Regions from separate parts of the Homo sapiens genome. Here region 1 is linked to region 2. Evidence: fine-mapped expression QTL. A gene starts in region 2. The other region holds a variant in brackets. All regions are shown on one strand. Distances are from middle to middle.

Region 1 (4,501 bases), 60 kb after region 2:
GAAGGCACTTGAGGGAACCTTCCTGGAGCCCGTAGGAGCTTCATCCGAGCTCCTGGGTCACCCCGCCCACCAGAGTCCAGGCCCACCAGAGTCCCCTGCCACCTGTGCTCACCCTAGCCTTACCCCTCGCTCTACTCCCGCCCTCGCCCTATCCTCGCTCCTCGCCCTACGCTTGCCCCTCGCTCTGGAGCTGCGATGCCAGCCTCAGGGCTTTCAGTCCTGCCTTGATCTTTTTTTATACTGAAACTCAATTTTACACACACAAACCCACTCCCAGCCAGCCTCTGCCTTTTGCCTTTTCCTCATGTTCTCATTGAATAGGAAGAAATGCCCTTTTTTTTCCCCCCTAGAAGGAGTCTTGCTCTGTTGCCAGGCTGGAGTGCAGTGGCACGATCTCGGCTCACCGCAACCTCCACCTCCCGGGTTCAAGCGATTCTCCTGCCTCAGCCTCTCGAGTAGCTGGGATTACAGGTGCCCACCACCACGCCCAGCTAATTTTTTTTTGTATTTTTAGTACAGACGGGGTTTCACCATGTTAGGATGGTCTCGATCTCCTGACCTCGTGATCCGCCTGCCTCGGCCTCCCAAAGTGCTGGGATTACAGGCGTGAGCCACTGTAGCGGCCCCCACCCCATTTCATTTTTTATTTTTTTATTATACTTTAAGTTCTAGGGTACCTATGCACAACGCGCAGGTTTGTTACATATATATACATGTGCCATGTTGGTGTGCTGCACGCATTAACTCGTCATTTACATTAGGTATATCTCCTAATGCCTTCCCTCCCGCCTCCCCCAGGCCCTTAGTTTGTGCTGCTCTGCGTTGGTTTTCTGCGTGTGCTAAAAGGGGAGGGAGAGTTTCTGTGCCCATTCCCAGGCACCTTCTTGCAGCCGCAGGCATCTCCCCCACACGTGCTTCTAGCTTCCCGGGTGTGGCGTGAGCCATTGCGTCCGGCCAGAAATGTTTTATTTCTTGAGAACTTGTCTGTCTCTGTGATGACTGTGGGTTGTCCAGCTCATCCCTCAAGCGCCATCCTGCCAGGCCCTTCACTGTGGTGAGAAACCGGCCTACTCACATCACAGGTGCCCCTGGAGTTTCTCAAACTGCAGCCCAAGGATTGGCTGCTTGCTTTTGTAAAAAAAAATGTTTTATTAGAGTGCAGCCACGGCTGCTTCTGCACTACAGTGGCAATGGTGACATTGAGTGTGGCAGAGACCGAGTGTCCCTTGAGCCTAAAATATTTACTATCTGGCTCTTCAACAAAAAGTGTGCTGACCCCCGGTGATTGCTTGTATGTGGCAGGGGTCTAAGGCCTGCCTGCACGTCCTGGGACAGCCCACGCTTCCACAGGGTTCCAGCATGCTTTCCGCCGAGAAATCGCTCCCTTTGCTGTTTGTTTTGTATTGAATGTTTCTTCATGCTTTTGTTTTACTTTCAGGGATAATTATATAATGTTATGTTTCATCCACATTATTTTAGTATGGATATTTATAATTTCCTAAAGCACTATTTTTTTTTTTTGAGACAGAGTCT[T/C]GCTCTGTCGCCCAGGCTGGAGTGCAGTGGCTCGATCTCTGCTCACTGCAAGCTCCGCCTCCTGTGTTCACGCCATTCTCCTGCCTCAGCCTCCCAAGTAGCTGGGACTACAGATGCCCACCACCATGCCCAGCTAATTTTTTTGTATTTTTTTAGTAGAGACGGGGTTTCACTGTGTTAGCCAGGATGGTCACGATCTCCTGACCTCGTGATCTGCCCACCTCGGCCTTCCAAAGTGTTGGGATTACAGGCTTGAGCCACTGTGCCCGGCCCATAAAGCACTATTTAATGACTGCTCCATAAATACAAACTTCCTTTCCTTATTATTATTATTTATTTTTTTTTTGAGATGGAGTCTTGCTCTCGTCCCCCAGGCTGGAGTGCAGTGGCGCGATCTCGGCTCACTGCAACCTCCGCCTCCCGGGTTCAAGCGATTCTCCTGACTTGGGACTACAGGTGCGTGCGACCACAGCCAACTCATTTTTCTGTTTTTAGCAGAGACAGGGTTTCACCATATTGGCCAGGCTGGTCGAACTCCTGACCTTGTGATCCACCCGCCTCGGCCTCCCAAAGTGCTGGGATTACAGGCGTGAGCCACGGCACCCGGCCCATAATTACAAACTTTCTGAGGGACATCTTGAAGCACACAAAACTATAGACAATATTATCATAACCACCCCTGCAAATGCCTCACTCGTGTTCAGCCATCATTTACATTTGAACCACTCCTGTTTCACCTACAGCCTCCTCATGGCCCCTCCCCTGGAGCACTTAAAAATGGTAATGACATGCTCTCTAGTAATCGTTGTGTGTTACTGTCAAAAGGTATAACTCATGCATTGATGGGGGTAACCCCTACAGCAGTTAACCCTGCGTGCTCAGAGGGGAATGAAAGGTAGCTCAGAGGCTCGGGAGGTGAGGTTGCAAAATGGCTTGTGTTGTGGGGAATGTTCTCATCCACCCAAATCAAGCATCACTACATCCATCCGCAGGGGAGGCAAGCTTAGGGCATCACGTCCAGGAGTGGCCAGGTCCCGATGTCACGGGGAGCCGGGCTGGGACAAGCTCCAGACGGCCAGGGTGGTGTGGGTTTGCAGTGGGAGGGCTGGCGCGGGGGCCCTGAGGGCTCCCTGGTTCCCATCTTATCAAGATGCTGGACTCGGTGCTTGAAACATGTCCTGACAGCCACATGAAAAGGGTTAGAAATGATACTGTTTCGCCTGGGTGCTGTGGCTCATGCTTGTAATCCTAGCACTTTGGGAGGCCGAGGCGGGCGGATCACGAGGTCAGGAGTTCGAGACCAGCCTGGCCAACATGGCGAAACCCCGTCTCTACTAAAAATACAAAAATTAGCCTAGTGTGGTGGCGGGCACCTGTAATCCCAGCTACTTAGGAGGCTGAGGCAGGAGAATCGCTTGAACCCAGGAGGCGGAGGTTGTAGTGAGCCGAGATTGCACTACTGCACTCCAGCCTGGGTGACAGAGTGAGACCCTGTCTCCAAAAAAAAAAAAAAAATGATACTGTTTCCTGTATTTTTTTCTCTTAGTATCTTAAGAAATACATGATTTGAACAAGGACCTTGTGTCTCCTCTCCCCTTTCCCGGACTATTCTGACCCCAGCAGTTCTCAGAAGGAGCTGACATTAATGAGAACTTCTCCCTGTTAGACCCTTAAAATACTGAGCTTTCGGGACCCTGCCTGGCTTGTTCCTGTAAAACGGTCTTGTCTGTGGTAAATACTAAGGTTTTTGGTCTCACAGCCGAGGAAATCAAGGATGTGGATGCACACAGAGTGAGATTTGGAGCAGGAGTTTAATAGGCAAAAGGAAGAAACAGCTCTGTCACAGAGACGGGTCCCGAACGGGTTGTGAAGTTGTAGAAGAAATGTCAGGGGTTTTATAGATGGGCTAGTGAGGAGGGGTGTCTTTTCTTCCTAGGGCCTGAAGAACCAGTTAGGACCAGGTGTGCTGTCTGCATCGAGCAGAGTCTCTAGCAGCCCCCACCCCATTCTTTTTTTTTTTTTTTTTTTTGAGATGGAGTCTCGCTCTGTCGCCCAGGCTGGAGTGCAGTGGTGTCATCTTGGCTCACTGCAACCTCCGCCTCCCAGGTTCAAGCAATTCTCGTGCCTCAGCCTCCCGCGTAGTCGGGATTACAGGTGCATGCAGCCATGCCCGGCTAATTTTGTATTTTTAGTAGAGACAAGGTTTCACCATGTTGGTCAGGCTGGTCTCCAACTCCTGACCTCAAGTGATCCGCCTGCCTCGGCCTCCCAAAGTAGTGGGATTGCAGGCGTGAGCCACCGCGCCGGGCCCCCACCCCATTCTTTGATCCTGCAGGCAGGCCCTTCGTTTGTGCTGCTCTGCGCTGCTGCTTATCTGTGTGTGCTAAAAGGGGAGGGAGTGTTTCTGTGCCCATTCCCAGGCACCTTCGTGCAGCTGCAGGCATCTCCCCCACGCGCTTCCAGCTTCCCTTAGTGTGCCTAAAGAAAGGGAAAGGAATGTGCTTTAGGCCCACTGTTTTCACTGGGGCCCATCTATGTATGTGGCTTGGTGATTACCCAGGAACCTCCCAAGTCTGTGCCCGAGTTGCTTATCTGTGTTTTACAGCCTGAAAGATCAGGCTGCTCTTTGTTAGGAGAAGTGATTTCTTTGAACTGCGTGGTGTGGTGAGAAAGGGAGCAATTTCTAAGCTGCTTTTTGTTAGGAAGTTTTTTGCTGGGGACTCTCTTCGCCCTATCTACCTAAATGATTTCTGTTTCTTACATCAATTGGGTATTGATTTCAGGTAGAATGGGTGAATGCATTTATTCGTTCATCTAAGCCGCATTTACTCCTTTCTTTTCTTTCACTGTTGTTTTTTTTTTGAGACGGAGTCTTGCACTGTCACCCAGGCTGGAGTGCAGTGGTGCGATCTCGGCTCACTGCAAGCTCCACCTCCCGGGTTCATGCCATTCTCCTGCCTCAGCCTCC
Region 2 (4,243 bases):
CAGCACTTTGGGAGGCTGAGGCAGGTGGATCACCTGAGGTCAGGAGTTGGAGACCAGGTGGCTAATATGGTGAAACCTGTCTCTACCAAAAATATAAAATTGTTATATTTTATATAATACAGCTGGGCGTGGTAGTGCATACCTGTAATCTCAGCTATTTGGGAGGTGGAAACAGGAGAATCACCTGAGCCCGGGAGTTGGAGGTTGCAGTGAGCCTAGAATTGCGCCACTGCACTTTAGCCTGGGCAACAGAGCAAGACTCCATCTCCAAAAAAAAAAAAAAAAAAGAAAAAAAAAAGATTTGGAGGGGACAGACATCTTAACTATATCAGGGATCTTGGCAAGACACTCAGGTTGGATAATTGTCTAAGTAGACCAGGGGTTCTCAGCTAGGAGCCATGTTGCCTCCTAGAGGACACGGGCAATGTGTAGAGACATTTTGGGTTGTCACAACTTGGGGTTGGGGGAGGGTGCTACTGCCATCTGGTGGGTGGAGGCCAAGGATGCTGCTCAACACTCTACAGTGCACAGGATGGGCCCCCACAACAAAGAGTGGTCCGGCTCAAAATGTGTGGTGGCCCACGCCTGTAGTCCCAGCTGTTTGGGAGACTGAAGTGGAAGGATCACTTGTGCCTGGGAGGGTGAGGCTGCAGTGAGCCAGAAGCATGCCACTGCACTCCAGCGTGGGCGACAGAGTGAGACTCTGTCTCAAAAAATATACATACTGCCCAGTAAAATGTTTAAAAAGTACCTTGTGTCCCAAACCAAATATAACTGTGAGGCCTTTTGGGCCCTTGGGCCTCCAGTTTACAACTGGTTGACAGTGGTCTCTGGAATTGTTCCATAAGGTAGGAGCCATATGTGGCTTAAATTTTGATTATGGGAAATTAGTATTTTTTGAGACAGTCTCCCTCTGTTGCCCAGGCTGCAGTATAGTGGCACGATCTTGGCACACTGCAACCTCCACCTCCTGGGTTCAAGCGATTCTCCTGCCTCAGCCTCCCAAGTAGCTGGGACTGTAGGGGAGCACCACTACGGCCGGCTAATTTTTGTACTTTTAGTAGAGAAGGAGTTTCACCATGTTGGCCAGGCTGGTCTCGAACTCCTGACCTCAGGTGATCCGCCCGCCTTGGCCTCCGAAAGTGCTGGGGTTACAGGTGTGAGCCACCGTGCTGATTATGGGAAATGTAATACAATTTAAAATTCAGGTCCTCTGATACACCAGCCACATTTCAAGAGTGTAAGAGTCCCACGTGGCTAGTGACTGTCATAGAACTTTCCACCATTGCAGAAAGTTCTGATGGACAGTGCTCTAGGATGTAGCTGTGGCACCCCAGGGTCTTGGGGCTCGCTGTGACAGTTACTCCTCTTCTGTCCCCCACTCTCAGCTGCACCTGCAGATGCTGCTGCTGCCGCCCTCCTGCGAGGCCGTGGCGCCACGTGGCTGGAGGAGGAGCTGCAGCTGCCCCGAGTGCTGCCGCGTGTGCAGCTCTCCAGTGCGGCTGCAGCGCCACCGCGCGTTGCTTTCGACGCCGGAGTCCTTCGCATGCGCAGCCAGCGCCCGGGCCTCAAGTGCCCCAGGACCTGGCGCAGCCCGCGAGCCCGCATCAGGCTTCCAGTGGGCCCCGTGGGCAGTGCCAGCCTTTCCCACCTCCGCATCTGGCAAAGCCTGGCCTTCGCTGCGCTTCGGTGTCGCCACATGCCTTCTGGAAATATCACACCTCCCCACCTGCGCATGCAGCCGTCTGGCCCTCTGTGGGCCTCGGTTCCCGCATGTGCCCCGTGGAAAGAACATACCTTCCCCAACTATCTGGCAGCGTCTGGCCTTCTCCGGGCCTCGGCCTCCCCATTTGCTGGGTGGAGAATCACGGCCCGGCCACATCGGAGCCAATGGCTGGTCTCTGGACCTCGGTCTCCACATTTGCTCAGCCGGCAGGAACATCCCTTCTCCCGCCCTCTACCTCGGTGGGTGGCCACGGCCGAGCAGGCAGCGACGGCCCAGTGGAAAGAGGACAAACCCTTGTGGGCCTTAGGGCGAAGACGTAACTTTGCTTAGTCTCGGTTTATTGGCCGATCTCTTGTCAAGCGGCGGAATCGTTCCGTTCGGGAGGTGGGAGGGGAGCGGGGCCGCCGGGGGCGGGCGTCTTCAGTGGACCCCACGCCTCCGGTCCCCTCCCCGCAGGGCGCTCCGCAGAGGCGAGGGGTGGGAGCGCCGGCTCCAGGCGGCGGAACCTCCGCACTGGGCTCGCGCGCTTCCGGCCGGCGCCTTTTCCCAGGGACTCCGCCAACCCCTCGCACCCCCGCGCCCCCAGTCCCCGCGTCCCCGGCGCCGCCGGCCCGGAGCTGCCCGGAAGTCTCGGTTCCGCCGCCGGCGCTCGCCAGGGGAAGCCCGGGGCCGCCCGGGACCTCGGCCCGTTCCTCCGGACCCGAGAGGCCGCCGCACGGGGTACGGGGGCCGGGATGGAGGGAGGAGCCTGGCCCTGGGACGACGCCGGGGCCAGGCAGGCTGGGGGAGTGCGCTGGAGCCACCCGGGATGGGGGTGGGGGTCGGGAGCGGCAGGATCGGGCGGAGGGACGGGAGGGGAAGTCGAGGCGCCAGGGCTCCTTGGGGAAGTGAAGGCAATAGGAGGGGCCCCAGGGCCAGGGGACAGGCGGTGTGTAGCGGGATGGGGGCGAAAACGCCCGGGCGCTGGGGTTCCCATAAACAAGGGGAGCAGAGCAAAAGAACGGGCGGGGGACCACGCTGTGTGTAACAGGGAGAGGGATGGGGCTCCTGGAAGAGGTGAACACGAGGAGAAAGAGAGATGCCAGACGTACACAGAAAGGAGGGGAAAGTGGGCTTGGGAGAGGTGCTGTGGGAAGCGGAGTCCCGGAGCCTGGTGTGCATAACGGGGTTTGGGAGAAGGCCCCTGATGGGTACAGAAAGAAGTAACGATGTCACCGCCATATATGGGGGGCGAGAGAAAAGGGGGCCTTTGGGGAGAATGTAGCAGGTAGCCAGGTTGGGGGGGCGGGGTATACAGAAGGAAGGCATTTGAGCCATTTTGGGGTGTATAGATGTAGTAAGACGATGGGTTCCGTAGTGGGGAGAGGTGACTAGACTTCGAGGTGCTAAGTGTAGGAACAGGATGGAAAAGCCCTAGTGAAATGTGGGGAATTGGGTTAGTGGGGCTCTGGGGAGGTACCTAGAGAGGAAGTGAGGGAGGCCACGGAATATGAAGATGGGGAGGCCCTGCGGCATGTAGTGGGGACGGAGGGCCAGGAGGCCGATACGGGGGCCGGTGGGGGGGTAGGGGGCGGCAAAGGGAGGGGAAGTAAACTGAACTGGGGCTGGGCAACAGGAAAAAAGAAGAAACCACAGATTAGAGAAATCTCGGCGGTCAGGAGGCCCGGGGTCTAAGATGTAAAGAGGTAAACAGATTTAGGGATTGATTGTCTGCTGGGGTGGGTTGAGAGGAGAAAAGGGAAGAAAAGTCGGGGGACTACGTCCTCAGACCTGACCTGAGTGGTGAGAGGTGGACCCAGGAGGAGTGGCAGGTGGTGGCGGGGTTTTGCAGAGCTCAGTTGGAGGCCCTCTCCGAGGCAGCTTGATGGAACGTGGGAGAGCCGGGCTGGAGTCACAGTTTTTATTTTGCTAGGGAGGTAGTCAGTGGCGCACAAAGGGTAACAAGCAGTGATAGTGGGGATGCTTTCCATTTTAGGAAACTTTTCCTAAAAGGAAGTGGCAATTTTAACTAATCTCCCCTCCGCCGCTCCCAGCTGCCGCTCCAGATGCTGCTGCTGCCGCCGCGGCCACCCCACCCTCGGTCCTCCTCTCCGGAGGCCATGGACCCACCGCCCCCCAAGGCTCCCCCTTTCCCCAAGGCGGAAGGCCCCTCCTCCACTCCTTCCTCGGCGGCGGGGCCCCGACCCCCGCGGCTGGGCCGCCACCTCCTCATCGACGCCAATGGGGTCCCCTACACATACACGGTGCAGCTGGAGGAGGAGCCCCGGGGCCCGCCCCAGCGCGAGGCGCCCCCAGGAGAGCCCGGCCCTCGCAAGGGCTACAGCTGCCCGGAGTGCGCCCGTGTCTTTGCCAGCCCTCTGCGGCTGCAGAGCCACCGCGTGTCGCACTCGGACCTCAAGCCCTTCACGTGCGGCGCCTGCGGCAAGGCCTTCAAGCGCTCCAGCCACCTGTCGCGGCATCGCGCCACGCACCGCGCCCGCGCCGGGCCGCCGCACACCTGCCCGCTCTGCCCACGCC

Evidence for each region. PIP is the estimated chance that this variant, and not a neighbour inherited with it, causes the effect.
Region 1: its variant is the best candidate, but not a certain one, in a credible set for the expression of ZNF580 in whole blood (INTERVAL, PIP 0.51).

Annotation. Positions count from the first base shown.
Region 1 is chr19:55,698,418-55,702,918 of GRCh38, forward strand. It overlaps EPN1 (epsin 1), which reads left to right. Exons shown (of 11, transcript NM_001130072.2): 11 at 1-4,501. Among named protein-coding and RNA genes, the nearest start is that of EPN1, 25 kb to the left of the region's middle. RefSeq lists an enhancer at 3,337-4,221 and a silencer at 3,726-4,020. The variant T/C (reference allele first, on the strand shown) is at 1,534.
Region 2 is chr19:55,638,738-55,642,980 of GRCh38, forward strand. ZNF580 (zinc finger protein 580) reads left to right here and starts at 2,265. Exons shown (of 2, transcript NM_207115.2): 1 at 2,265-2,446; 2 at 3,760-4,243. The coding sequence starts at 3,772. It overlaps LOC107983998 (a long non-coding RNA gene), which reads left to right. Exons shown (of 2, transcript NR_171683.1): 2 at 1,389-2,062. It also overlaps a transcript of ZNF581 not described here. RefSeq lists silencers at 2,115-2,634, 3,825-4,243, 3,826-4,120.